Linked DNA regions of Homo sapiens: region 2 is linked to region 1. Evidence: fine-mapped expression QTL. A gene starts in region 1. The other region holds a variant in brackets. All regions are shown on one strand. Distances are from middle to middle. Region 1 holds the start of LHX4 (LIM homeobox 4). Region 2 overlaps OVAAL (ovarian adenocarcinoma amplified long non-coding RNA).

Evidence for each region. PIP is the estimated chance that this variant, and not a neighbour inherited with it, causes the effect.
Region 2: its variant is the best candidate, but not a certain one, in a credible set for the expression of LHX4 in lymphoblastoid cells (GENCORD, PIP 0.67).

What each region holds. Positions count from the first base shown.
Region 1 is chr1:180,221,721-180,236,795 of GRCh38, forward strand. LHX4 (LIM homeobox 4) reads left to right here and starts at 8,544. Exons shown (of 6, transcript NM_033343.4): 1 at 8,544-8,885. The coding sequence starts at 8,810. RefSeq lists a silencer at 7,985-8,114.
Region 2 is chr1:180,561,268-180,576,342 of GRCh38, forward strand. OVAAL (ovarian adenocarcinoma amplified long non-coding RNA) reads left to right here. Exons shown (of 3, transcript NR_125716.2): 2 at 937-1,077; 3 at 3,984-5,251. It also overlaps the pseudogene LOC124904658. Among named protein-coding and RNA genes, the nearest start is that of OVAAL, 9.8 kb to the left of the region's middle. RefSeq lists an enhancer at 10,167-11,366. The variant G/A (reference allele first, on the strand shown) is at 8,573.

The DNA.
Region 1 (15,075 bases):
ACTCCTTAGAAATGCAGAATCCTAGGCCCAGACATATGGCGTCAGAGCCTGCATTTGAACAGCACCCGGTGATGATATGCATGGGAAAGTCTGAGGAGCTCAGTGAAAGGCCCGGTAGTAGAAGGAATATTCGTGGAGCATTTGCCTTAGGAGCTTTGCCTGTGGGATCTCCTGATCCCCAACAGCCTCTTCTCAGGATAATTATGGGAGTATCACCCCCATTTAAGCATGGGAAAACAGAGGCTCCCGGGGTTTAACTTCCCACAGACATAAAACTCAGATGTAGATTAGAGCCAGGTTTTATGTTCTCTGCAGAGTACCTCCTCAGGTGAGGTCTGGGGGGAAATCCTTTGCCCCCCCAAAGCTCTCAATATTTCCTCCTTGACCACCAAAAGTGGCCACAGTTCTAGTGACCTGGTCCCTTTTCTGCAGGTCAGTGTTTTCAAGTAGAAAGTTTTGGTGACCAGTGGCAAGCTCTTCATAGTGAGCCAGGATGTGAGAAGTGAGAAGAGGCCAAGCAGGGAACCCCCTGTTCTTGGACAATAAACAGCATCACAATTATGGGGGCTTGCTTGCACCAGGCCTTGTGCTAAAGGCTTTATTCCTCCTTTGCCAATGGTATTAGGTAGGAATTGTCACTATCCCATTACACAAATAAGTAAATGGAAGCTCACACGGGGTCACACCCAGCAGGCAGCATGGCTGGAACCCACACTGAAGTCTGTCGGGTTCCAGAATCGGGAGTCTGGCCCCTGCCTCACAGCCTGTCCTCACACACACCTCCTGGGCCTTCCTCCTGTTTCCTCTGCCCACATCGAACACATTTACATGTTTTGGTTATAAGTCAGTTCCTGAAGGGAAACTGTTGAATTAGACTCCTCTAGTAAAAATCTTTCGCCAAGACAATGACGGGATTGTTTTATAGATTAGCTTTGACACCTGCAGCTATTTAAAATGGAGCCAGGCTGGGCTTTCCACCCCTTCTCCTTACCATTTCTAGCGTCCTCTTCAAGAGCTGAGAAATGGATCATCTGGTTAGAAGCTCTGAGACAGAGCCCTAGGTCAAGCCCAGACAGCACGACCTTTCTGTGCTTTGGTTTCCTCATCTAGAAAGTGGTTGGAGTATGACGTGATCTACCTGCTTCGGTGAGGCTTGTGAGGCTTCGGTGAGATGGGGTATGGAAAGGCACCTAGTAAACTGTCAAGCACTATAAAAAATGTTGGTCACTAAGACCATTCTTGGATTTGAGATGCCGCTGAATCCTGGAGGGAAGATGAGGAAAGGGGGAAGCGGGGAAGGTGGCAGTTGTGCAGCATCTGGAATCTAAGCTCCTTCTTTACATAAATTTGGAGATTAAGTCAAATCAGAAAACAAACAAAAACGAAGAGAACATAGGTGCAAGGCAGTGTGGGCAGAACAGCTTCCGAAGGAAAAATACAGAATCAGCCCAGCTATACCTTCCTGTCCCCTTTGCTTCGTATAAGCAAGGTGTCTGTTGCCATGACGGAGTGGAGCTTTTCACAAGATAGCTAAAATTTCACCCAAGAAGCAATTCTGGCACATTGACCTCAGCTTGTGGCAGAATTGAAAGAGCAGGTTTCCTCCACCTGCAAAAAGGGGAAAACCAAGAACAGTCCATGGCCATGGGGCTCTCTCTATCCCAAATGCATGCTTAGGAAAGAAGAGCTCCCAAAGTCTAGTCTTCACTTAAGAACACCCAGGAGAGTTTCTTGTCCCTTGGTTTCCCCTATAAATGTAAAATAAGGAAAAGAAAAAAAAAAGCAAAATATTGCAGAGGGTATAATCATGATGCTTACTAGGTGCGGTGGGTAACAATCTGTGAGTAGAGTGCTGTTGTTAACCCCATTTAGTCAAAAGACTGGATTTAATTTCCAGTTGGCACTACAATTTATTAGCTATGTGACTTTAGGGACAGCAGAAAAGGAACTTGCCAGAATGTATCCAAGTTGGGATTTGAATGCACGTCATCTAAGCCCAGAACCCAAACATTTACTAACCCAGTTCTCCAACCCCTTCCCAACACAAGGAAGACAGGCATCTGGAGAACTTTGCTGACATAATTTTATGGGAATGTTGCCAGTCCTGGAGCAAAGTAAGCTGTGAACTGTCTGCACTTGGCACTCCAGGTCATTGCCTTCCAGGGCCTGTCATGGAGCTGGCATACAATAGATGCCCGATGAATGCACGAATTAAGGAATGATCTAGGTAGACTTTTTTTTTTTTTTCTTTTGAGACAGGGTCTCACTCTGTCGCCCAGGCTGGAGTGCAGTGGCGTGATCTCGGCTCACTGCTACCTCTACTTCCCGGGTTCAAGCAATTCTCCTGCCTCAGCCTCCTTGGTAGCCGGGATTACACGCACCTGCCACTGTGCCTGGCTAATTTTTGTATTTTTAGTAGAGACAGGGTTTCACCATGTTGGCCAGGCTGGTCTCAAACTCCTGTCCTCAGGTGATCTGCCTGCCTTGGCCTCCCAAAGTGCTGGGATTACAGACATGAGCCACCATGCCCAGCCAGTACTATAGACTTTTGAGAGATAAAGAGAATTAACTCTGAAATTGGAACAAGACTAAACTCCCCAGCTCCCCCATACACACAGCCATGGGATGTGATAGCTTCAGAGATGGGCTTAGAGGACTTGGCCTTGCTGGGTCATGTACTCTGCATGGACCCCTCACCTGGCCATGCCCAGGAACCCTTAAATAAGGATTATTTGATGATGCTGGTGATGCTGCAAGGATAGAGCCAAACTACCTGTGACCATATCCTAGCTCTGCTGCTTACCACCTGTGCAACCTTGGGCACATCACTTGACCTCTCTGTGCCTCATTTTCCTCATCTGTAGAATAGGGATAATGATAGTACCTGCCTCTAAGGATCTGTGGGGGTTTCATGAGGAATATACATGCAGCATTAGAACAGGGCTGGCAATGTAAGTGTGAGCCATTGTTGCTTTCCGTCTTCCTCTAAGGATCCCAGTGCCCTTTTCTTGTCCTGTTTCTTAGCCACTAACTGAGACAGAATCTTATCTTGAGAGTTAGATGGCCAAGTACAGGACCATCTCTTTCCCATATCCCTTAAATTCCTGTGTCAAGGACACAGGGCAGGTTTAAGATGAGTAGTGACGGCCTTCTGATCAGCATCCTGGTGGGGAGAGATCCCTGCAAGGTTCTGGGAAGAGAATGAGACAAATGACAAAGTGGTGGGCCCATGAAAGGCCCTGTGACAAATGACTGGAAGGACTGGGTGGACAGATGGAGAAGAGCAAAGGCCCCTGTCCTTTTATTGGAGAACTCCTTGTGGCTCCCTGAACAAGACAGTGGCTCCCCAGGGGCTGGGCTTAGGGTTGGTCTCCCTGGTTCTCTCTGCGGGGATGAGTAATACGGACCGGGGCAGAGGGTCTATATCAATCTAGCCCAGCAGAAAAATGAATGAAAATTGAATTCCCCAAGGAGAATCGGGGAGCTGTTATCCAGACAGAGATAAATCAAAGGATGCCACAGAGCCCCGGGAGAGCAGGTTTCCAACAGCAGGAGAATAATTAAGGAAACAGTTTCAAAATGCAAATAATGAAAGGGGCCTTGAGAGGAATGAGGATGAGGAGGAGATGATTAGAGCTGGGATGACAGGGAGGGGAGCAGGGGCAGTGAGATTCGTCCCTCAGTGGAGAAAGAGCCTGGGGTTCAGGATTCCTGGCATCTGAGAGTGAACTTGCCTACTCTGTGAAGCTCTTAAAATGGAAGGGTTAGAAGACACACTAGACTGCTGTGCCGAGTGGAAAGAACACCAGGTTGAGACTTAAAAGACTGGATTTAATTTCCAGTTGGCACTGCAATTTATTAGCTGTGTGACCTTGGGCAAACCACTTAACCTCTCTGTTTCCTGATAATCATACCCAAGCCCGGGCATAATTATGAAGATAATAGGAGATAAAATATGTGGAGGAACTTTGTAAAATGTAAAATGCTAGATAAATGTAAGCTATAATCATTTTCCTAAATTGAGTGTCTTGCCTCTGAATTGGATCCCCTGACATGTTGGGTTTGGTTTCCAGAAATGGAATGTATAAATGTCTAGCAAGTACTGGATACTTTGTACTGGCTATTGTTCAAGTTCTCTGACAGAACTTAGACCTGAAGAAAGCCACATCACCCCACCACAGGCCCATCCTCTAGTGCTCAACCTCCAACCAGGTCCTGGCCCAAAGGGACATGGCTGGCTCTGAGGAACATTCCTGGGAGGTCACCTGCCAGCCCTGGGTGCATTGTAGTGAGAAAAGCCCTGCTGAGTCAGCTCAGGGATTTTAATCCAAACTGAGTCCCACCCCAAGGGTCTTTCTGGGCCATTCCATAGTAGAGATTAATGGACTTCTGTGGGATTCAGCCATTCTCCCATTCTCTGGGGGTAGAAAACAGCTTAGCCCCTGCTAGCCTCGGTTTTTTCATCCACCAAGTAGGTATGATGAAACCATGCATCAGTTCCTCATGAAGAATAGGTAGAATTATGCAGGTAGAAGCACTTGCCTTGGTGCCTAGTACAGTTGCAAACTTTCAATAAATATTAGTTATTATTACTACCATATGCTACTATGTTGTTATTATTATTATTATTACCATCAACAGCAGTAGGCACTAAAATCTGTTTAAGGAAAGCTTTTTGCTAGGGGTTCCTCATTTGCAGATGGGAAAGCTGAGGTCCCAGGGGAAGTGAAGCGTCTTGGCTGGTATAGATGCTATTGGAGGACCTTGGGAATGGGACCCAGCTCATACAAGAGGCGAATGCTTTTAGAAAAGCCTCAGAATGGCCGGGCGTGGTGGCTCACGCCTATAATACCAGCACTTTGGGAGGCTGAGGCGGGTGGATCACGAGGTCAAGAGATTGGGACCAACCTGGCCAACATGCTGAGACCCCCGTCTCCACTAAAAATACAGTAATTAGCTGGGCGTGGTGGTGCGCACCTGTAATCCCAGCTGCTCGGGAGGCTGAGGCAGAATAGCGTGAACCCGGGAGGAGGTGGAGCTTGCAGTGGGCTGAGATCACGCCACTGCACTCCAGCTTGGGCGACAGAGCGAGACTCCGTCTCAAAAAAAAAAAAAAAGAAAGAAAGAAAAAAAAGCCTCAGAATGTGGAAAGGGCATTTATTGGCTGAGCTGCACTGTGTGTGTGGGCATGGGGGTGCAAGGTATGTTGGAGCTGCTGCTTACAGGTGCAAGAACTGAGAGCTAAGCTGACTTTCCTGGGCTTGTCTGCCAAACGACACAGGTGAAAGTGGTATCCCCTGAATCAGTCTTGGGCAGAGATAAGTCCCCACCACAGTAAGGCTGTTCCTCACCTACTGACAGGCTAGTGACATGCAATGGGAAAAGGGCAGGACCCCAGCAGGTTCAAATCAGAGAAGCAGGAGCTGCAGAGAGCATTTTTAAAATATAATTTTAAATTATAAAAGTAATTACTATATATGCTTTACATTCACTGCATTTGAATGTTATCTTTTACTAATGTTACTGAAAAATAATCACTTTACAGAAAATCTGGAAAAGAGAAAAAGGAAAAAATTCCATAATACATCTCCCTAATATACCTTTTTCCAAATATTCTTTTGAATAGTATTTTGGTATCTTTCCTTACCTTTTCCCTAATATTTTAAAAAGCATTTTATTAGTTTTTTTCTGCTTTATAAAATAATGTGCTCATTGAGAAAACTGAAAAAAGCGAAGAGAATAAAATAAAATATCCACTGCACAGATAACCACTTTTACACTTTGGCATTTTTTTTACTCCTCCTAAACAATTTTTTATTGAGGTAAAATATACATATAATTTACCATCTTTACCATTTTTAAGTGTACAGTGTTTATGCTTTTTTTAAGAAAAGTTCCTGAAGTTCATACCGCTTCATATTCTTTTTTCACATTTCCTAATAAATCTCAAACCCTTTTCTACATTAAATATTCTTCTGTTGTATTATTTCTAAGACTTCATAACATTCCATTTTACTTAATAATTTACTGTAACTTATTTACTATCCCCTATTGTTGGATATTTAGGTTTTCCCTTTTAAAAACCTTATAAACATCCTTGTAACTACATCTTCACAAACATTCTTGATTATTTTCTTTGGATAAATTTCTATAGAGATTGGGTCAAATGCATCACATTTGTAGCCAAAACGTCCTGAGAAGACATTTCCCCTCTTTGCAATCCCCACTAGGAAATTGTTTTCTAATTTCCCCACAGCCTAACCAACAATGGGTATTATCATTGCCCTTACATTTGACTAAGATTTTTACATATTTATAATCCTATGCTATTGCATTGTGCTTTTAAAAAAAATAGTATTTCACAAGCATCCCCATGTTATTGGGTTTCATAATTGGTTTCCATGATTCCATAACATACTACCAAACAATTTAATCTACTTCCCTAAGCCACTTTTCTTTTGTTGGCTATTTAGGTTATTTTTCTCCAAAACATAATACTGTAATAAACATTTTCACGCATGAAACTTTTATAAAAAATTCTAGATTATTTCCGTGGAACAGACATTCAAAAGTACTACATAAACTAAAGGGTATGAAAAATTTATGAGTTTGATACATATTGCCAAATTTCTTTCCAAACGGATGTTAAGAGTTTATAAGCACCCAGCAGTATTGGTGAGTGTCCAAGCCCCTTTCGCCAGTCCTGAACTCTAGGATGCCCCTCCCGCGCGTCGGGCATCTCACAAACAGAAAAAGCTGTGCACGTGTTGTTTTGTCTTGCGTGTTTTTCACTGCAAATGAGGCTGGCGTTTCCCCGTGTTTGCTTACTAGTTATATTTCTATAGAACACATTTTGGTAAACACTAAAAATGTCACTGGGTTCTTTTGCTTTTTTCTTCTTGTGTATATTGTCTCGCGCGCGGAGTCACCTCGCAGGTAAACAAGGGAAGAGATGATGCCAACCCAGTACCAGGACACACAAAAGTCACTGTGACCTCATTGGAGACAAATTCTAAGCAGCGCAGACGACCAGGCCATTCTCCCCCGCCCCATGCTCCTCCCTTAAAGGTGAGCAGGTGTCCCTTGTTTGGAGATGACACCAGGGGAAACAGCAGGGAAGGTTCTGGAAGGCTGGGGAGGGCACACAGTCCCCCTTCCCGCCTAAGCTGAACCCCACTAGGCTGGAAGGACACGTATGTCTGCATTTCTGGAAGGAAATGCCGTGGGGGCTGGGGGCAGGAGAGCGGCTGGGTCTTGGGGCAGACGGGGTGGGCTTCCCGCGCCTGCAGCCCGGAGGCGTCGAGCGCCTGATGGAGCGTCAGAGGAGACCTCGTCCCAGCGTTGGGCCTTCTGTTGTATTTCTGCCAGAAACTCGCGTTGAGGAGAATTTGTTTTAAGCGTTTCTCTACCTGTCCATGCATCTCGTAAATACAGTAAGCATGGCAAGCCCTTTCGCTGGTTAACCCCGGCGTCCGTGTGCTCACTGCCGCCCTGCACGCACGAGGTCGCGGATGGTTCAAAGCACCCGCGGTGGCAGCCGGAGAGGCAGAGCGGGCTCTAGGGACCTAAGACAGGGCCGAGCTGGACGACTGGTGGCAGGGCGGCCGGGGAGGCCCCGCCGCGGGGAGGTTTGGGCCCCCTACCCTGCGGAACTGGAGGCAAGTGCGGACTCCGGCTGCAGGCCGCGGTCTGCGGGGACGCGCGCGGGGGGCCTGCGTCCCGCCACCTCCGCGCACAGCCCCTGGTCCCCTTCCCCAGCCCGGGCCGGCGCCGCCCGCCGCGTGACTCGCGCGTTCCGGGCCGAGTACGGGCTGTCCCTTGGCCCAGCCTCAGCCAGACGCGGGGGAGAGAGAGCAGGGGCTGGGAAGTGCCGGCAGGAAAGGAATTGGCCAGGGGAAAGAGGAGGAGGAAGATAGATGGAGTCATCGGTTACGGAGCGCGCTCCGTCCGGCGGAGCGAAGCCGGGGACCGAGAGCGCGCAAGGCGAAGACACAGCGACGCAGCCCCGTCCCCGGCCTCCGGACCGCCTGCCCCGCTCGGCCCCGGCTCGGCTCCGCCCCGCCCCTGGGTCCGAACGGAGGAGTGAGGAGGACACGAGCCGCGCGGGCTTGGAACCCACGAAGACCCGCAAACCCAGGGCGCCGCCGTCTCCGACCACCTGCTGCCGCGGCAGGCCATCAGCAGAATTTATACCCAGGGCGCGAGCCCGCCACGGCTGGGCGGAGGCGGAGGCGGAGGCGGGGAGGGGGGGGGGGTGCCGGCTTGCGAGGCCCCGCCCCGCTCCCTGCCGCCCCGCCCCCCTCCGCCCCGCCGGCCTCACTCGGGGCGCCGGGACCCCCACTCCCTCCGGGGTCGGCTGCCCGCCGCCGGGTTGGGGGATGTGCCGAAGGGCGGGCCTCCCTGCGGAAAGCGACGTCACGGCCGCTCCTGCAGTGTGAATGAATCAAAACGCCCGGGTGACCGCGGCCTCCCGGGCGGCCGGCACGCGAAGGGTGGAGGGGGAGGGGGAAGGAGCGGGCGGGGGAGGGAAGAGGAAAAAAGCCAGAGCTGCAGCAACAGCGTCTCAACCTGGGATGTGCACCAACCCCGGAGAGCGAGATCAAAGGGACTGGAAACAGACTGGGGACTGGCGGGGGGAGGGGGCCGGCCAGCCTGTGGAGTCCTCCCTGAGAAGCGGAGGGCCCGGCTTCCACCGTGACTCCAGCGGCCTGCTTGGGGTTTTAATTATTATTTTGAAATTTCTGAATCGAGCTAGAGCGAGAGAGCGAGAGATCTCCGTAGACTGCGACTCGCTGGCTTTCGCTCCGAGATGATGCAGAGTGCGACTGTCCCCGCGGAAGGGGCTGTCAAGGGGCTCCCGGAGATGCTAGGTGTGCCGATGCAACGTAAGACACCCCCCTTTCTCGCTGATTTAATTCTAACAAGACAGCTAGCAGCCTCAGCCGCTGCGGGGCGGGCCGGACGCCGCTCAGGGGCCGGGAGGGGCTGGCGGCCGGGGCGCAGAGGCGGTCACAGGGCAGGGGCACCAGCCAGAGTGCGTTTGAGGGGGCCAGGCTCTTGGCTGTTTGGGGCCGAATGTGAACGCCTCCTGGATCATGCTTGAGGCGAGCCGAGTACCGAACCCCGCATCTCCAGCCCAAGGCTTTTCTTGGAACGCTGGGGAGAGTGCTGTTTGGGGACACCCAGGGGTACGAGCTGTAGGCCAGGCCTGAGGGCGAGGGTGGTCCCCACAAATCTTCTTTCGCCGGCGTGACGGTCAGCGCTTGCAGGACCGCTAGTGCAACTTCACCCCAGCTGGCGGGAAGTTGGAGAGCGCGTCTCTCGCCCCTGGGGCTGGCGGCGGAGAAGCCCCGGCCACACTCTTAGTCCCTGCGGCCCGCGCCCCGGGCGTGCGTGCCGGGTGAGTCCCCAGCCGCTACTGCCCGCGGCGCCCGCCGCGTGCGCCGCGGGAAACTGACTGCTCCTTGTGAGGGAATCTGCTCGCGCATTCCAGCTAGCCTAGGAATGCAGGGGAGGGAGAAGCGACCGCAAGTTGTGAATTCCGGGTTCAGCCTTTGCGCACGCGAGGGCAGGTGCTCAGGGTGGCTCGGGTTTGGAGGGGTAGAGACGGGGGTGTGTGGGAGCTTTGCTAGCCTGCCCGCCCGCTTTCTTCCCGCGCCCGAAATTAGCGAGACAGCCGGAGCTCGCGGCGTGTTTATCCCCAAGTCTCTCTCTGTGTGTATGGGTGTGCGCGCGCAGAGATTTTCCCGAAGGGAATCCGTCTCTGTGCTTCACTCCTGAGCGAGAGTCCCCGAGAGGGAATCTGTGCAGAGGCCAGAACAGGTGCCCAGTCGTCGCGCGCGCGCGCGCGCGCGCGCGACAAGCGCCGGGAGAGTCCTGCCCCTGTGGCTTGCACGCTCAGCAGGGCGCCCCGGGCACCCTGGAGAGACCAAGGAGTTCCTCGCTCCGCTTGCCAAGGGGTTGTACTTCCGCCTGCGACTTCTTTAGTGGTGCGGTAGCTACATCTTCGGGGTTTACTTTAAGTAAGGGCCGGCTCATCCAGGGATGGTGACTACCTACAAACTAGGGCGCACGAGCGCGCCCTCCTGCGCCTCGGGTTTCCATGGCAGGGTTTCTGTCCGGCGATCCTTCGGAGGGCAGGCGTACCGTAGGCTTCCCTGGGAAGTTTTTGAGAAGGGACTAGAAAAGAATAGCTTCATCCAAGCCTATTTAGATTGTTTCTTGGCTGTATTCTACAGTTATTCTTTGAGTGTTTTCGTGTCAACTGCCGGCAATCAGTTCCACGTCTGTGTTGAGCCTTGGGGAGTTTACCGCTAAGATGTTTTCATAGAAGGCATTGGAGATTCACTACGCCCCACACCCCGCACACAGGCAGGGACAGAGTGGGTTCTCAGCCCCTGCAAAGACGGAAACAGAAACCCTGCAAAGGTGCACCGAGTCCTTAAGCTGCTTGTAGCTCTGCGCGAGTGAGGAGACTGCATGAGTGGGGGAAGGGTGTGTGTGTGTTACTAGTGTCCTTGGTACCCAGTACGTCTGTGCTTTCATGGCTGTGGTCCGTAGGTGACCTGTCTGTTGGGACCCCAATGAAGGACGATGGTCTCTGCTCTGACGGCCTTTCTTGTGATGAGTGACACTCTGATTGTCTCACTTTTTGCCTTCCCTGTTCAGAGACAACTTTGATGTTCGACGTCAGGGAGTCGCTTTGCTAAAATGCCCAGAACTCACCTTCAGAGCTACAGTTTGCCAAGGCTGAGTCTAGGTTCACACTGTGGAAAACTTGAGGTGTACAAAGGAACTTCCACACCCACCCCCCCAGGGTGGCCCAGGGAGGCAATGTCTAATCTAGAGGGGGTGGTCAGTCCTCCCTTTGTCCGAGTTTCGTGACCTTGGTTGGAGGAGGCATCGGCCAAAATTGAGGGGCCCACTCCCTGAAGACTTCTGGATCCAGCTTTTATTTCCTCTTGGAATGTGAATGGATTGTAGCCTCCCTTGCAGCACATCTGGCCTCTGGCTGTTAGGCTGTTGGTGCTGGGACCGCGGGATAGGTCCCCATCACCCACATATACACAACTATTAGTTTTCTTGGGACTGGGCCCAGTGGCCTAAGAAGGGGGGAAGCTCGAGGGGTTGTGGGGCACACCCTTGGGCCTTCCGGGACAGTAGGCTCTTAAACCCTAGAGGAGGGGAGACAAAAGAAACGCTCTCCCACAGGGGTCCCTCCAGTCGCCAACTAGAAGGGTTTCCCTCTCAACACAGACATGTTTGCCTCTTCATCACATGGAGTCACCACGAATGGAGCACTTGGGGACGCAGGTCTAGGTGTCCCCAAGCTCGGTGCCTCTAGTGCCCTCCCCTCTAGGGGCATTTTAGAAGAAGTGATTTAAATCCAGCTTATTTCGGCGGCAGCTGGACTATTCCTTTGCTTATTTGGGGATGGGTGAGGGGCATACCCTTTAGGAAAACGTTTCCAAATGATGTAATAATTTCTCTCTCATCTCTGGTCTTGCTCCAGACTTGGCCTCTTCCTCGCCACTCTGTCCCGGCCTCCCGCCCCCGCAGGCTCCCGTGCGGACTTAGCAGTTCGCGCCGTAGCCCTCCTGGTTTTTTACCGCGCCTTGGTCGCGCGGCCCCCGGTGCGGGCCTCGTCGCTCCGACAGCCCTACAGCTGTCCCTACGGCCCGCACCGACAGCTCGTCCCCGCCACCTCCCTCCGGGCTGTAGGGACGTCGAGATCCGAATCCTCACAGCGCCTGACCCGGGGCCGTGTTGGGTACGGGTACGGCGAGAGCCTTCCGAGCCGCCTCCAAAACTCTCCCCGCGGACCTCAGCAGTCCCTCCACGCGTCGGGGCCCTGCTGGCCGGCCATGCCCTCTGAGGAGACGCGGAAAAGAGCGAGGCATATAGGAAGGTGGGGCGTTTTATCCGCCTCGGTTTTGACCCATCTGCCATGTAGTCTCCCCAGGCACCGAGGGAAAGGACGACGGAAGCCCGCCGCCCGGATCGCTGGCGGGAGAGAGGGCAGCCCGCACGGGAGAAGGAGGAGCCCCGCGGGGTCTCCGCTGGGGGTGGTAATTGGAATGCAGGCCTGGGGGTCTCTGTCCCCCTCCTTGTCTCCTAAAATGCTTCCGGCAAGCTCTGGCGAACCCCGAAGCTGTAGGAAAAAGGTATTTTATTTTGTGTTTGGTAGGGTCGGGGTAAAGGTTTTCCCTGGGACTTCCTCTCCTGGGGCTCCTCCGGGGTGCGTGGGGTAATGTCCCAGCGCAGGTCGAGTTGCAGATCCGAGTCCCCGGGGTTGTTGACTGTCCTTCTTGCAGGACATTTCTTAAGGGGGTGAGATGGATTCACTGTCCAAGACAGGAGTTCACTCAAACGCTGGTGCTGTTCGCTCTTCTTTCCATTCCTGCCTTGTCTCCTAGTGCGAGAAACAGACACACACAACACACACAAATTATATATATATATATATATATATATATATATATATATATATATATATATATAATAGATTGAGATTCTATCATATTCCGAACATTCCGATATAGCAGCTGTAGGCACCATAGACCTCCCTCCCTGCGTCGCGAGAATATATTCTCAGGCAGGAGACAATTTTTACAGATGAGGTCAGCTGTCCCCGCCGGCCGATTCGGGCCTGATGGGTTGGGGGTTCCGATGTCCTAACTGCTAGGATCCCGTTCCAGCCCCTGGCCAGAGCTGTGTACCACAAAGAAGGGAGTTTGGAGAAACCCGGGTAAGCGCGGCAGCGCCCCGCTTGGGACAGCGGATGGCTGAGGACTCCCAAGGGGCGAGAGGGCTCCGGCCTCCTCCTTTCCAGGGCCTTGTTATCTGAGAGGGCCGTTAGCACGGAGGGAAGCTTGGAAAGCCGCTGTCCCAGTGCGCTCCGCATGCGGAATTAACTGTTAAAGCCGGACACGGAGCACGCAGGTGCAGCAGGTGAGGGGCAAAGGTCTGCATTGAGCAGTCCGCAGTGTCCCGGGAAGTCGTAAAGTCGGGACTGAGAAGAAGCAGGACCTAACTCAAGTTTATTTCCTCTCTTGGCCGAGGTCCGGGCTCGTGGAAAACCAGAGCTAGGCGGGGCTACGCAGGGCTGAGCAGGAGTGGCGTCCTAGGGTCTGGGAGCGCGACCCACATGACCTCGCTACGACCGGGGCAGGGCTCCTCCGCCCCGCGGGCAGATGCCGGCCTGGGTGGCCCGGGGAACAGACGATGAATTCTTTAAATGAGCGTTTGCTGCGCACCCATGGGCGGCTCACGATCCTGGGCACTCGCCCGGGAATCCCGGGCGTGCTCTGGGTTTTGGGGGACTCGCCGGTGGAGGTAGATGTGGACAGGGCGGCCGGCCCTTCGCGGGTAGCCGGCTTTGCGCTTACTGCGTCCCGCAGCGGTGGGTAAAGGTCGTAGCCCAGAAGGGGACAAGGGAGGGACCGCCTCTCTCTCCCCGGTGCGCTGCAATAGAGGTTCCTGCGCCTTGGCCCTTGCAGTCCATCCGCCCAGAGGTTCGCGCCCGTTTTCGGAGCTTATTATCTCAGGTAGCCCAGAGGTCCGACTGAGCTGGAATTAGCCAGGCCTGGGACCCCTTTGCTGCCCTTTAGAGTGGTGGCAGGGACTTTTCCAGCAAGGATAGGCGCGGCAGGCGCGAGTGCGGACGGCGCGCCCATTAGGAGGAGGCCGGGTGAAAACCTCTCTTCCTCTCCAGACCCATTTCGTTCCAAGCATTTGGAATGACAAAATTAAACCCCAACCCTGGCGGCTCGAGTCTAATGTGACTGTTTAACCCTGGGAAAGCGATGCTCCCATTTTCGAAGGGGCTCCTCCTCTTCGGAGCGGGGAGGCCGCCGGCGGGTGTGCCCGGCCCGCGCGTTCTGCGGGTGTTCGAGCCTCGGCTCCCCACTCGGTTCCGCAGCTTAGTGGACCTTGACGAGCGCTGGAAACGTGTCAGGCTCCAGAGAGACAGAGTCTCTACCTAGGCGGCTGAGGATGTCAATTAAAATCGACCAGGGAAGGGAGTTGGCGGCACTGTGCGCCGCCGGGGAAGGCGAGGTGGCGCGGGCCACCGGGTGCACTCACCGCACGAGAGGCCGCGGCTGGACTGGGACCGAGCGCATCCCTGTGTCTCAGGGGGTTTGCTTTGTGCAGGATGGGACCTTATTATTTTTAGACAGTGGGGCAAACGTGTCTTTTAAAGAGATCCGAAGGGTGAAACTAATGAAAAAGGAAATGAATTACTAGAAAAGCCGTGAAGGGATAAAACCGGGAGCAGCAGGAAGTTGAAGGAAGGACGACCGAAGCTAGGTGTATCTGCACCTGCCTCTTGACACGCCAAAAACAAAGGGGGGTTAAGGCAAGAATGTAGACTAAATGCTGTGAGGATTAGGGTAACGCGAGCCCTCAAGACGTCTCGGAGACCGCCTACAGGGCTGCAAATACCAGGGTCCATTTTTAAAAATCGAGTGCTCCTAGAGGTGGGGTGGGGGTGGGAGAGCCGGGAAACCAGCAAAGCAATTTCTTTCCATTGAGTAGACAAAAACTTGGGCCACAGGGGCATCTTGTATTTTGAACAGTGACCCGATGACCCCGCTGGCCAGGTGTAGACAGCCTCAAGTCCTAAATATTTGCATTGTCCTAACTTCCCAGTTGCCTCGGATTTTAATGCCCTTTCACTCTGCGTTACAGTCAATTAGTGATTACTTAGCATCCACATTAGTAGACTGAAGCCAGAGACCCCAGTGCTGGGAGGAGAGGAGGAGCCGGGGGAAGGAGGATGGGGCTTGCAGTCCTGCAGGGATGGAAAATTAGTTAACAGGAATTAACTGTTCTTTCTATTACCTTGTTATGAAATCTGCTTTGAGCTTCTTGTTTTGGACGGGAATGGTGGGTATTTAGTGGATTTCTCTGGCTGGGAAACTTGTGTCCTCTTCCTATTGAAGAGTTGTGGATGGGGGGCGGGTAGGTGGAATCGGATAAAGGGACCTTGTGCCTTTTCTTTCAATTAAGGAAATTTTTCAGGAATAGAGCTGAGGAGCTTTGGGACGCATAGGGACTTGGAACCAGTTTAGC
Region 2 (15,075 bases), 340 kb after region 1:
AGTGACCAGATACTTAGTGGCAGCCCCAGCTGCAGTTATGGCAAGAAGTGGCCAAGGAGGGGAATCACCATGACCACAGAGGATGCAGTGGGCATTAGGGACCTGGCATTTGCTGTCAGAACAATCCAGTCAGGGTAACAGGTGGTGTTGCAGGAGATGGGTGGAGCACACAGCAGGGATTTGGGGAACAGGAGATCCATGGATATCTACACATGCTGACAGCTCTCAGCATCGGGTTATCTGGCAGCTCAGAGCAGTTGCTTTGCCTGGAGTGGTTGGGTACTCAGCCTGGCTGAGGCTTGTCTGGGAGAACTTTCTCTGTCATTGTTCATCTTGATCTGTGAGAAGCTGTAGGTGCCCCTAAGGCTCAGTGGGAAGATAAAACCCCAACAAGTTGGTCTGGAAAATCGAAGACCAGCAAGTGGGTATGGTCATAATAATTTTAATTTTATTTTTTTTTTAATTAGAGTTCTGGCCAGGTGCAGCGGCTCACGCCTGTAATCCTAGCACTTTGGGAGGCAGAGGCTGGCAGATAACCTGAGGTCAGGAGTTTGAGATCAGCCTGGCCAAAGTGGTGAAATCCTATCTCTACTAATAATACAAAAAATAGCCGGACATGATGGTGAGCACCTGTAATCCCAGCTACTTGAGAGGCTGAGGCAAGAGAATTGCTTGAACTAGGGATGCTGAGGTTGCAGTGAGCTGAGATTGCACCACTGCACTCCAGCCTGGGCGAGAAGAGTGAAACTCCATCTCAAAAAAAAAAAAAAATAGAGTTCGCTTTTCCTTTTTGGCCTTCCTAGACTGCGCAGGTGTCAGCAGGAGGACCAGCCATCCACTTTGGCTATGGCAGCAAGGCTTTCTGGTCAGTCTGGAAATCAGTAGGTATGGAGATTGGCTTGCAAGTACTCATCAGAGCTCCTATTTTCTTTTCAGGAGGCAGCTGTATGGAGGCCAATATGCAGACAAGGGAAGTAACTCAGGCATTTTGGGGGAGAGGTACAGAAAGAAGAGAAAAGACTGAACTGACTGCTGTTCTGAACAAGAACTGTGACTATATGTGGTACTCCCAGAATGGTGAGGTCTGGGACACTTGAATAATATGGCTATACTGTGAATGATGTTACCTAGACAGAATGTTTATCCCAGTTAAGTGATAGGTAGGGAACTAAGGTATCGAGGGTCTCAGGTATAACGTCCTGAGGGGTCCCATGAAAGCAAAGATAACAGGTGTATCTTTTATGCCTCTTAGAGCTGTACGAATGCTGTAACTCAGGGATCTATAAAGCCCTAAGTCAAGCAGAGGCACAGGTGGAAAAAGGGGCAAATTTGATAACCCAGAGAAGAAAGCCTGGTGATCAAAGCAAGGAGACAAACCTGAGGCTGCCATCAGGTGCTGAATATGAAGTGAGGCTGTCAAGGGACACAAGGTATTCAGTAGCGGATGGGGTGTGCACAGAGAGGAAGGCTGGACAAATATCTGAATCAGGGCCATGGCCCAGGGCTGATATTTTCTGAAATGCCTAAGGCATGATATGTGAGCAGGCCACTATAGTTAGAGTGACACAGACAGAGTGACAGAATAGAACAAACAGCAGAATCAGTTTAGTGTTGAGTGTGTTCATCTGGTTAGACTAATTTCCTAGTCACAAAGATAAAACTGAGAACATGTTTTTTTCCTCTAGCCAAGTGGTCCTTTACAGGCAGATTAAAGACACCAGCTATAGATAAACATGAAAGCAGCTTTACTGCTACTTCCCTTCGTTTTCAGTTCTGGTGGGCAAGTAAGGAGTCTCCCGCTCCAAGAGAGAGTAAAGGTTTAGAGCTACTCCCAGCAGGGTTCAGGGCATGCTTATGGCAGAGAGGAGACTTGCCTTCCCAGCCTCCTGCAGGCCCTAGGATGCCCTGGGTCTAGCCAGAGAAGGACAACAGTGAGTCAGCAAGTTAGAATGGGTTTAACAGTAACAGCCGGGTGGAGTTCACGTTCTGTTTCCTCAGGCTTCCACAAAGAAAACCAGAGATCTCTTATGTAGGACTAACCAAGTATAATCTTGTCTTACTGAGTATAGCCAAGTATTCACAGTTTGGGTCACTGTGAATGGAATTGTTAACAGTGGAGAATTCGTACGGGTCGGCAGCAACCTCAATCGGGGCATAAGGCAGAGGGAGAGACCCAGGCAAGTTTTAGAGCAGGAGTGAAAGTTTATTAAAAAGCTTTAGAGCAGGATTGGAAGGAAAGGACACTTAGAAGAGGTCCAAGTGGGCGACTTGAAGGACAAGTGTGGTTTGACTTAGGGTTTTATATGTTGGCATACTTCTGGGGTCTTCTCCCCTGATTCTTTCGTTGAGGGTGGTTTGTCCATATGTGTAGTGACCTGCTAGCACTTGGGAGGTGAGCATGCGCAGTGTGTTTACTGGAGTTGTACTTATGCTCACTTGAAACATTCTTCCCTTTACTGGTGACATGCCCCCAGAAGATCAAATACCAGTTAAACTCCGCCATTTTGCCTCTTGGTGCTCATGTGTGAGTCCGCACGCCCAACTCCTGGGATCTTATCAGGAAGCTGATGATCACCAGTTTCAGGTTTCTTCTATCTATAGGGAGACTGCCTTTCCCTGGAGCTGGCTGCAACCAATTATTATTTTAGAGAGACAGTTAACAATGGCCTGACCATCACCCGATGGTCGCCTGACTTTCCCGGTGGGGTGTGGGGACCCTCTTCTGTCCTGTTTGTGTCTGACTAGCTACCTACTGTAACAGGATGACCATATAATTTATCATTCAAACTACTAGACACTTTTGAGAGTGAAGGGGGGCACTATTAGTTATGTTGGCAAAACAGGTGTGAATGTGGATGTCTCTGGATAATCAATATCTACAGCCATCCAACTCATATATGGTAACCCAATCCTTTCCATTTTTTCTAAAAAGCTAGCCATGCTCTTAAATTAAAACACAGCATTTGAGTCTAAAGTCGGATTGCCAGTTAAAATACAAGATGCTCTGTTAAATTTGAATTTCAGATAAATGAATACTTGTAAGTATAACTATGTCCTAAATATTTCATAAGACATACTAAAAATTATCACGGTTTATTTGAAATTAAAATTTCACTGGGCATTCTGTATTCTTATTTGCTGCTGACAACCCTAGTCTAACTAGGGTTAGACTAGTTTAACTAGTCTAAAGTTAAACTACTGTGTTGTATTCAATTCTATCATCCTGCTTATGATGTAAGTCTTTTAGGCTCCAAATGATTTAGGACATAGTCTGGTTAGCAAAAGGAGAAAATTGAGGCATCTGTTCCAATTGGACCAGTCACCTGAGCCACTAAAATCAGCTTTCTTAAATGTCTCTGAACTAGGAATACGCTGGGACTAGGTCCCAGTGCTTGGGGTGAGCCAGGCCAGCAGGTGAGTGTCCTCAGTTGTGGGACAAGGAGCTTAGTAGATAAGCATCTTCTCCCTGCTCGATGTTCACCTTTGCTTGATCTCCTAGGCCAGTGGTTCTCACCCCTGGCTGCATATTAGAATTGCCTGGGGAGCTTGTAAACCCACTGATGTTTGAGCCCCACTCCAGACCAATTAAATCGGGATCTCCAGGGGCAGGCTGTGGCATCCATGGGTTCCCAAAAGTTCCCAGGTGATTTTAAGGTTCTAATGAGAACCATTGTCCTATGCCCTCGCTCTGTTCCCAGTGGCATCAGTTCTTGTTTAATTCTTCTCCTTTAAATACCCTCTTTGTAGTATTGGACATTTTATAGCCCAGAAAATATGACTGGAGCACCTGTTCTGTGTTAAAATGGCGGCATGGATGGGATTTGCCCGGAAGGGTTCCTTGTCCTTCCATGACCTTGTCTTGTGCTGACTCCTGGCTCTCTCCAAGCCTCCCTTCTCCTCTCTCCTGCTTAAGCCTCTCTTCAGCTTTGGCTTTCCTTGTCTCCTCCTTCTCTGTTTATAACATGTCAATTTCCATTTTGCAGCTGGTTTCCTTTCAGACCCATCAAGTGGCCATCCTATTGGCTTGGACTGAAGACCCCCACTGGAGAACTGTCTCTGCAGCCTATACTGATGACACTGGCCACTGTCCAGGGCTCCACCCCAAGGAGTCCAAGCCCCAGACATTTAGCCTTAGAGAGAATCCAGATTTTGCATTTCCAGTGCAGGGATTGATGGAGCCTTGTGTATCAAAGTGCCAATTTCTTTCTAACAAGCTAGGGAGGATACCGTTGACAGCAGCAGAAAGGGGTAGCAGTGGTTTGCTTTCCAAATGGTAATAAGAAGGGCCTGGCAGTGGCAACCTGTCCACGTATCATTAAAAATGGACTCTCCTGCTTCGTTTGGAATTCAACCCAATGAACTTGAATAAACTCTGGACAATGACCAGCACAGAGCCCTAAGCAGGATACAGCAAGATTATTTGCTTTACTCATCCACTGAGTACCTACCATGTGCCAAATACTATGCTATATGCCGAGTATACACTGGCAAATAAAACAGATATGGTCCCTGGAGCCTATGAATCTTACCCCATCTAGCCACAAATAATAAAAATAAGAAGAATCTGAAGGACAAGTGGGACAGAAATACTCAAGCAGAATGAGGGTGAGATTGAAGTCCCTGAACATACAGTGCCCTTTACACTTGATCTTAGCCAAAAGGCCGAGAAGAGATTACAGTGCTTTTTAAAGGTAGCATTTCACCCAGCCAATAATCAATCCCTTTGGCCTTCTTGAGGTGCAAGGCCACACACTCAAATTCTTTAATCAAACAATAGGCTAGTGCAAATGGAGCTATTTCTTAAACCCAGCTGTTTACACAGCAGCTACAAATCTGTTCAGAAGGAATCCCCCACCATCCACAACTGTCTATCGAGCAGATGTGCAAGAGTATTTGTCTCTCACCACCAGGGTTGCAGTCAGGACAAGAGAGCAGGTTTGAACGTCTTCGGCTCCTAGAACTGCACAAGCTGTGTCTTCAGTGCCCAGAGGCGGCTGCAACGTCTCCCCAGTTCTCCTCTCAGAACAATGGAAATTTTTTTTAGAGGCGTAATAGGAAGGTTTGCATTGAATTATTAAACAATGGGTATTGAAAAATATGTTTTCTTTGACCTCTGTACTTCTAGCTTTTACCAGTCAGTGTTTTCTTGTACCAAGGCTAAGATATGTATAACACTGAAATGGATGTCTTCTTATATAATATTTTACAAGCTTTTGAAAACCTGTGCCCTTTAATAAATTTTAAAACGTTTCATGCCCTTCTTTCATTTTCTGAAATTCAAAATAAATTAAATATCAGGGGACACAAAAGCACAAGAAGAAAGCACTGCTTTGTTTTCAAATCAGGCCCCAAGCCACTGCCCTTGAGATTCTTGTGGGTCAGCACAAGCACCCCTCCCATCTCCAGTTCCTGAGACTCATTGTTCCAAATGGTAATATTAACATTTGCCATGTTCACTCATGGATAACTTTCCATTATTTCAGTTGTAAACATTTTCTATGTGAAATATGAGATGAGACCAATGAAACAATAGATTTTAAACAAATTAAATAAGAATTTTTGCAAGCAAAGGAGCATCATGACTTTGAAATGGCCACTTTTGGGGGCCATGCTTCTAGGGCTAAAATACGCATGCTTCTGGGGCTAATACCTTGGCTCCAAAAATTGGGAGGTACTCATTCAGTGCAGCGGAAAGGAGTATAAGCTTTGGAAGCAGGTGATCTGGATGCAAATCACATTCTGCCACATTTTAGCTGTTGCCGCTTTGACCTAATTGTTTAACATCTTTCTAAGCCTCAGTTTCCTCAATGGTAAAAGGAGAAAAAAGATAAGAAAAAATGAATGCAAAATGTCTGCACATCTCAAGAAGCTAGTAGTTACCAAGATTGGAACTATCACTAATGATATGTCTTTTCCTTAGAGATCTTTTAGGATGATTTTTTTTTTTTTTTTAGAATCTCTTGTCTTTTAAAGTCAAATTAAGAGAATAGAAGTGGATAATAAATGGCTGGCCGTTCTAGTTTTAGAGGGAAAAAAAACTGTTGCTATAGTCACTATCCTACAATTTTGTGTGGTTCGTTAAATGACTCTGAAGTTCACTCCAAAAGATGTTTCCAAAATGTTCTGAGCGACCACATTCTCCTTAGAATTGTGCACAGACTGGCTGGGTAGCCACTTTGAAGGGATTCAATTCCTTTGAATGTTTAAGTAAGTTGTTTGGTGTTAAAGAAATTCTCTTTGTTTTATGGCCACACCACAAATATGGACATTGTAAAAAAGGCTTAATGATTGCAAATCCGCCTTGCCATTTCCTCTATGTCCAGATATATGTCTTTTTAGAACACTGATGTGTAGTAAGCAGAGATTTTTATTCCTTTTTAATTTTTTTCCCCTTTGATTCCTGAACCTTTGTCATCGACACAGGAAAATTAGACCCAGTCCCTGCTACCAAAAGCTACCGCGATCATTCCACAGTTTCACACGCTTTCAGGTTTCCATTTTCCTTCTCTCACCCCAGATGCCTGGCATACGCGATAGCAGCAAAAACAAAATCTGTTGCATTTTTGGAATGTTATTAACACTGAAGCAGCCCAGGGATTGCAACAGCTAAGATAGGGATCCCCACCCCCAACTTTTTTCTCACTAGAGAGCAAAGAGCAACTCTTAAATCCAGAAAGCGAGGAGAACCTTGTCCGGAAGAGGCACTCAAATGCATTGAATCCACTGATTTCCCTCTGCTTGCCACCCCAGCCTTCACCACCCCATCTCGACTTTCCCACAGGAAAACCATGTTAGGTGTTAGACAATGATGCCACACAATAGAAATATAAATCCAGTGTTTGTCTAGCATAATATAAATGGCACTGCTGAACTCCATCCTTCCTCCCATTGACAACATCAGAGAGATAGTTAGTGAGGGGCAAAATCATCTGTGATTGTCTCTGCATGGATGTTGAAATTGCTCCCCCCAGGGTCTTCTAGGGTTTTTAAGCATAAAGGTGTTCATCCAACTGAAAAAATTGTATATCTATAAGCAATTTGAGATTCAGCATGTCTGGCAATGCACATTTTTTTAAGGATGAGAAAATGCAGCATGAAATGTGTTTATGTATGCTGTGCTGGGGAATTTCTGAACCTTTCACTGTCATCTTGAAGCCTTTAAGAGGGAAGCTCTTGAGGATGTTGGATTATAAAAGTCATTCTCTCATTTCTGGGACTTAAGGACACGTCTCTGAGCATAACAAATGTGCGATCACAAATGAAGGTGCCTTGAGCTTAATGGAAGAAAGGTTTATCTTCAACACTGACATTTCTACTTCTCTAATAAAATCATATTGTGCCTCTTTTTTTATTAAAAGGTTTCTTCGCCCTTCCCCTTTCCTAGGGCTGATGGGATTCATCCCCTAAAGCTGGTGTGGTTGGCAGTAACAGGGCTGAGTAGATTTAGCTGGTATGATCAGGAGATTGGTTACAGGGGAATTGAGCAAATAAGTAAACATATTGAAAATGATGGGAGCCAGGCCGCTCACTGTTGGAGAGATCTATATTTGAGTTACAAATATAGAATGAAAGAAGGCTAGAATAAATGCTGTGGTGTTGGAATAGAACTGAAAGTATTGGTGTGAACTCCTGGTTTTTAATGTAAATATATAACAAAGATTTATGTGTATTATGTGTGTATATATAAATATATACATATATAGAGATACACATATACATGCATAGACATATCTATCTATCTATATACCTAATTTCCTAGCTCTATCTGCACCGAGTGCCTGAAAGTAAAGGCACCCAAGTAGCAATAAGCATACCTAGCATCCACATCATGGCTTCTAGATATTATTTTTTATTAAAAGGAAATAGGACTCCATCAGGAAATAGCTGATTCCAGGATGTGGTAGTTTTAAAACTGGTCCACTCGAAGATATCTACATCTTAACCCCTGGAACCTGTAAATGTTACCTTATTTGGAAAAAGGATTTTTGCAGATGTGATTAAGTTAAAGATTTTTAAATGAGGAGATTATCCTGGATTAGCCAGGTGGATCCTAAATGCCATCACAAGTGTCTTTATAAGAGAGAGACGGGGGAGATTACAGACAGAAGAGGAGACAGCGTGACTATGGAGGCAGTGATTCAGTCACAAGTCAAGGAGTGCCAGCAGTTACCCCAAGCTGGAAGGGGCAATAGACAGATTCTCCCCTAGAGCCTCTGGAGGGAGTGTGGTTCTGCCAATAGCTAATTTCATCCCATTAATATTGGTTTCAGACTCCTGGCCTCCAAATTTGTAAGGGAATAGTTTCTGTTGTTTCCAAATCTGTGGTAATTTGAGATGGCAGTCAAAGGAAGCTAATATACAGGCCTGGGGCAGGGAATGTCCAAGATGAGCCTGGAGCATCTTCTTGAGCCAGAAAGTGAGGTGATGCTCAGGATGAGAAAGGACACAGGGACCAGCCTGAAGGGACTTCCATGGGCCAAAGTGAGGGCAATAAAGAATCAAAGGGAATATCAAGAATAAAAGTTGGGCACGGTGGCTCATCCCTATAATCCCAGCACTTTGGGAGGCCAAG[G/A]CTGGTGGATCACCTAAGGTCAGGAGTTCGAAACCAACCTGACCAACATGGTGAAACCCCATCTCTACCAAAAATTACAAAAATTAGCCGGGCATGGTAGTATGTGCCTGTAGTCCTAGCTATTCAGGAGGCTGAGGCGGGAGGATTGCTTGAGCCCAGGATGTTCAGGTTGCAGTGAGCGGTGATTGTGCCACTGCACTCCAGCCTGAGCAACAGACCGAGATCCTGTCTCAAAAAAAGAAAGGAGAGAGAGAGAAAAGAAAGAAAGAGAAATGGAATTAGAATATCACCATTTGGCAACCAACAGAATGGAAATTAATTTGGACAAGAATCATCAATGGATGCAAAAACTAGTGGATGACAGTTTGATGAGAAACAGCATCTTTACATTATCTCACAGTGTCTTCCAACAAAATACTTGTTAACTCTTATTACCCATTTTTAATTTAACATCACCAGTAATGGGACAAATTGACATCATGTACCCTTGATATGATAGACTGAGAACAAAGCATTACTCTGTGGTGTTCCTGCCAAAAATGCATGACATAAAGCTAATCACGAGGCAGTATCAGACAAACCTGAACTGAGGAGTATTCTACAGATAACTGGCTGTACCCTTTGAAAATGTCAGAGGCATGCAGGACAGGGAAAGGCTGAGAAACTGTTCCAAATTAATTACTTCCAACAACCAATCCTCAACTGCATTCTGGACCCATAAAGGATATTATCAGGGCAGATGGTAAAATTGGAAGTTTGTGAATAAATGGTGACATTGTATTGATGTTTCTACTTAGTTATGTAGGAGAATGTCCTGCTTTTAGGAAATGCACACTAAAGTATTAAGAGATAATGAGACATTATGTCTGCACCTGCCTCCCAAATTGTTCAGCACAATAATTTATAAAAATACGCAGAAAGATTGAAAGACAAATGTGGTAAAATGTTAACAATTAAGGACTCTAGGTAAAGGGCATATGGGAGTTTGTTGTAGCATTCTTGCAACATTTTTGTAAGTTTGAAATTATTTCTAAATGAAAAGTTAAAAAGAAAAAAAGATAATTATTCTACCATGGTACCCTGTAACTTTCATTCAAAAAGTACTTATGGAATTCCCATTCAGAAAGTGAAAGGGCATTGGAGGGAAAGCCAGGGTACCTGGTTCTGCCACTATCTGGGTCCCCTTGGGCAGGTAACTTAACCTCTCTGAACCTCAGTCTCCTCAGCTTTATCATTCTCTGCTTTTCTACACCTAAGGCAATTGATTTCACTAGTTGGTTTAGTTCTGATTTAGAAGGAACCAACAATGGCATAGTTAAAAATCATTACTGTGGAATGGGGAGTGGCTGCTAGTGAATAATTGAATGTCATTTCTTTTTGCAGGCAAAAATGTTCTAAAATTAGATTGTGGTGATGACTGAATAACTCCATGAAAATAGTCAAAAATATTGAATCATGCACTTGAATGGGTGAATTATTTGGTATGTAAATGATATCTCAAGGAAGCCATAGAACTCATTGCTGTTGATTTTCTCACCCCACAGCCAACCGTGATTCTATAAGGTTAGACTGAAGAAGCCTGTGATGTAATGGTGATGGTTTAACAGCTGGGTGAGTAGAGAAGACATTCTCATTCCAGAGGCAGGTTGAGAAGGAAAAGAGCAAATGCTAAAGGAACATTTCCCAATGGCCGAAGGAAAGAGTGTGAGGGACATTTCAAGTGCCTGCCCCCAGCCTCTGTCATCATCCTTTGCCCTCTCACTCTACGAGGTCCTTGGCTGACCTGATCCTTTACTGTGGTTTCAACTTCCTCCCATAGGTTGGTGACTCCCTGTGTGATTTAGGATTACATGTGGCTGCAAGAGGAAAAGGAAACTAAAATACTGGGAGCTTAAAAGCTTAAGCAAAAGCTAAGTTTTAAAATGTATTTTTCTTTCTCACATAACGTCTGAGTAAACAGTCCAGAAGCTCCGTGAGGTCTGAGATCCTCTCTCTGGGCCTCCCTTTACAGCCTCAGAGGCTGAGTGCCGAGCAGCTCTAGCAAGCGCGATTCCCATAGACAGCCTGAGTGGTTCCTTCTGGAGTAGAGCAATGTGATGGCCCTGCCCAGGACCCTTCTCTCTTGTCTTCTTTAAGTGGTCTCATCTGTGTTGTCCAAGATGGCAGCATTTATCTTCCAGGAAGGAAAATGGCAGAAGGGACAGAGGCAGATGAAGGGGCGCAGGGTACACGTGGGCTGAATCTTAAGTAAGGTTTTCAGAACTTCTCATTGTCTTAGTCATATGACCATACTCAGTCTTAATCATACATGTCTTAGTCATAGGACCATACTCAGTTGCAAGTGAAACGGGGAAATGTAGTTTTTATTCCAGGTGGCCATGCACCCTTCCCCCCAGAGAAAAGCGAAGGGAGGGAAGGAATCCTATTACCATGAAATAAGAATAAACAAGTATTAGGGGACAACTGGCAACCTTGGTTGCTATTTCCAATCTATACTTCTAGTCCACACCCATATAGTCAATTGTCTCCTGGACACCTCTACACAGATGACTCACAGACAGCTAAACAAAACCAGCCCTAAATGGAAAGTGTTGTGCTTCCCCACCTACTCCCGTCCCAAACCTGCTCCTCCTCCTGCGATCACCACCTCAGTGAATGGTAATGTCATTCATCTACTCGGATGAGAATCATCTTAGACTCTTGCATCTCCTTCACTGCCTGTCCTCTCTCCCTGCCCTGAGAGTGCCACCCCTGCAAATCTCCTCCTCCCCATCCCCATGACTTTAGCTGAGACTCATTTTTTTGCTGGTCTGGATTACTATAGGGGCCTTAAACCGGACCTCCTACCTCCAAGTTGTCCCCACTACAGTCTTTTCCCCACCTTGTGCCCAGAGTACTCTTGGTGAAGAGAAACCTAATTTTCACCTACCCCTCCTTCGAACTCCTGGGTTTCTCTGTACCTTTGGTGGTAAAGGGGTTTCCTCGTACCTTTGGTGGTAAAGTTCACTCTGTTTGAGCATAGCACCCGAGGCTCGTCAGGATCTGGCCTCTGCCTGCCTCTCCTGCTCCATGTGCTACCTCTCCCTACCACACAACCTTTGATCCAGTCCAATGGTGCTGAACTATGGGTAACAGTTCCCTAAACAGCCAGCTGATGCATGCCACTCTGCCCCTGCACAGCTGCCCATTCAGTCTGAAATGACCTTCCCATTTTTGTCTAATTCCTACTTCTTCAAATCTCAGTGTGAGCACTGCCTCCCCAAGGAAGATTTCCTGGGTTCCCCAGTCTGATTTAGGCATTCTTCCTTTTACTGCCCTAATACACCATCCGTAATTATCTCAGTACTCACGTATTTGTATATCTTTCCCACTATACTACAAGCTCTTCAAAGGCTGGGATCTTGTCTTTTTTTTTTTTTTTTTCGCTTTTTTATCTCATATGCCTGGCACATGAATATTTGTTGAGTAAATAAATATGCCAGGCTCAATCCTACACGTTTATATGTCATTTATATGGGGAAACAGGCTCAGAAGAATTGCATGACATGTCAAAGACCACAGTGCTAATAGTACAAATGGAAATTAAATCCAATATTCGTGCCTCTTTGTGTGTTCCTACTTAGACAAATAACATTTATGGCTGTTTTGAATTGAAATGTGGATGCACCCACTTTGGAGTTGATTAACCTTCATCCTAAGTCTATTATCGGAGGTGTGTATTTCTTCTCTTCCTCCACATTCTTGAGTCTACGAACACATTTCTAGGGTACTTACAAAAAACAGAGTCTTGTCCAGGCGTGGTGGCTCGCGCCTGTAATCGCGGCACTCTGGGAGGCAGAGGCAGGTGGATCACCTGAGGTCAAGAGTTTGAGACCAGCCTGACCAACATGGTGAAACCCCGTCTGTACTAAAAATACAAAATTAGCTGATCATGGTGGCACATGCCTGTAGTCTCAGGTGCTTGGGAGGCTGAGGCAGAAGGATCGTTTGAACCCACAAGGCGGAGGTTGCAGTGAGCCGAGTTTGCACCATTGCACTCCAGCCTGTGCAACAAAAGCAAAACTCCATCTCAAAAAAAAAAAAAAAAAAGTCTAGGCTGAGCACAGTGGCTCATGCTTGTAATCCTAGCACTTTGGGAGGCAAAGGTGGGAGAGCCACTGTGCCCAGTAGTTTGAGACCAGCCTGGGCAACATAGTGAGACCCCCATCTCTACAAAAAATATTTAAAAATTAATGGTGTGTGCCTGTAGTCTTAGCTATGAGAGAGGATTGCTTGAGTCCAGGAGTTCAAGACTCCAGGGAGCCATGATTGCACCGATGCACTCCAGCTTGGGCAAGATAGAGTCTAAAGATAGAGTCTAAAGTCTTTGCCTCCTCCTGGAAAAATGTTATCATTGTTCTCTACCAGCGGAGTCTGTTTCTTTACTCCTCCACTCCTTCAATGAATATTTGTTAAACACAGCTCTGTGTTAATGCCTAATTGACACATAAACATGCAGAAACTAAGATATTTCAGCCATTATCAGAACCTTTTAATCTTTTTGTTAGAGCCAAGGAGATTCAGCTTTGTCTAAGGATACGGTTACAAATGAAGAACAAGGAACAGAGCTGTATGTGTATGTTCAAGGTTGCATGCTATTATTGTTCCTTCTAAAGCAAGGCAGATATAATCCTTGTATTGGAAACAGGTTTCAGGTACAATAAACAATGTGCTCCCTTATCTCAGAAGCACAAAGGTGGTTCAGCCAGTTGTTTACCACTCAGGTATTCCTTATTCAGCAGTTTTCGTACAAAAATGCTACCTTTTAATTTCCTAATGCTCTGCCCTCCCAAAAGGTAATAAGAAATAGAAACTGGGTACTGCCTAAATGAATTCACTTGTGTGGAAAACAAAGTCATTTTTATATACTCCTGCAATGTGCATTTGACTACAAGCCAGAACATTTTACACAAGCAGTGGAATTCATCTCTTGAAATTGATTCAGGTTTTCTCTGATAGGAGGGGTGGAAAAGGAAAATGAAAAGCACGTGATTATAATTGCACTTGGAAGCAGTCCCAGTTACAAGAGCAGTTCTTTAAAATTATTCTTTTGGTTTCACCTTAAATTATCTTAATGGGAGAGTACAGTTTAGTAGGAACAAGGAAAAGTGGGAAAAGGATACCTGGAAGTTTCTCTTTTCTCTTCTTTTGTCTTTTCTTTTCTTTTCTACCTCCTTCCTTCCTTCCTTTCTCTTTCTTTCTTTTCTTCTCTTTCTTTCTTTCTTTCTTTCTTTCTTTCTTTCTTTCTTTCTTTCTTTCTTTCTTTCTTCTTTCTTTCTCTTTCTTTCTTTCTTTCCTTTGACAGGGTCTTTCACCCAGGTTGGAGTGCAATGGCATGATCATAGCCCACTTCAACCTCAAATTCCTAGGCTCAAAAGATCTTCCTGCCTCAGCCTCCCAAGTATCTGGGATTACAGGTGTCCACCACTACAACTAGCTACTTTTTTTTTTTTTTTTTTTTAGTAGGAGTCGTTATGTTGCCCAGGCTGTTCTTGAGGGCTCAAGCAATCCTCCTGCCTCAGCTTCCCAAAGTGCTGAGATTACAGATGTGAGCCACTATGCCCGGCCTAGAAGTTTTTATTTATTCATTCAATAAATATTTAGCACCCACCACATGGAAAGCACCACATTGGGACCTGTGGAAACATGATGATTAGTCAGATAAAAGGTCTGCCTTCAAGTGAGCACAATACTGCAGGCAAGTTAATACACACAAACACACACACACACACACACACACACACACACACACGTATTGTCCTCACTAATCTAATTCAATCTTAAAATTTTTGCTACCTAAACCCAAGAATTAAATAGATTCAGATACATTTTAGAATAAATCCATCTCCATCCCAGCTTTTACTACTTGCTTTCCAAAACTCAAGAACCTCCAGTCATCAGTACTTGGACACACCATTCAAAATCAGTCTCCAAATTCAGGAACCTGATCGGTGTGGCTGGCAGGATACTTTAGTACTATGTAACATGATAAGGGCTATAAGAGTGGCCCCAAATGCTATGAAGCTTGGAAGAGTGTGAGATAGGCGTACAATCTAGTGGAGAATATATTTTACTTTTGCCTTGAGCAGTGGGTAGAATGTTTCATCGCCAACCTCAGTGCCATGACATGTCAAAGACGACAGCACTAATAGTATATATGGAAATTAAATCCAATGTTCATGCCTCCTTGTGTGTTCCTACTTAGACAAATAACAACCTCAACCTCAGTGCCCTCTAGCAATTCTTTTATTTCTCCCCTATATGTCCTTTCCCCAACACCCCCCTTGAAAGCCTTTCACCAGTCTTTCAAGTCCCCTACTTCTACTTTCCTCCCTTCACTCTCAGAAAATGACCTTCCCTCTTACTTGATAGAGAAAATAGGGACTGCCAGCCCTGCATGACCTCATTTTCCTGACTACATTCACCTCTCCCCAGTGAAATCACCCCACCTTTCTACATTTCAT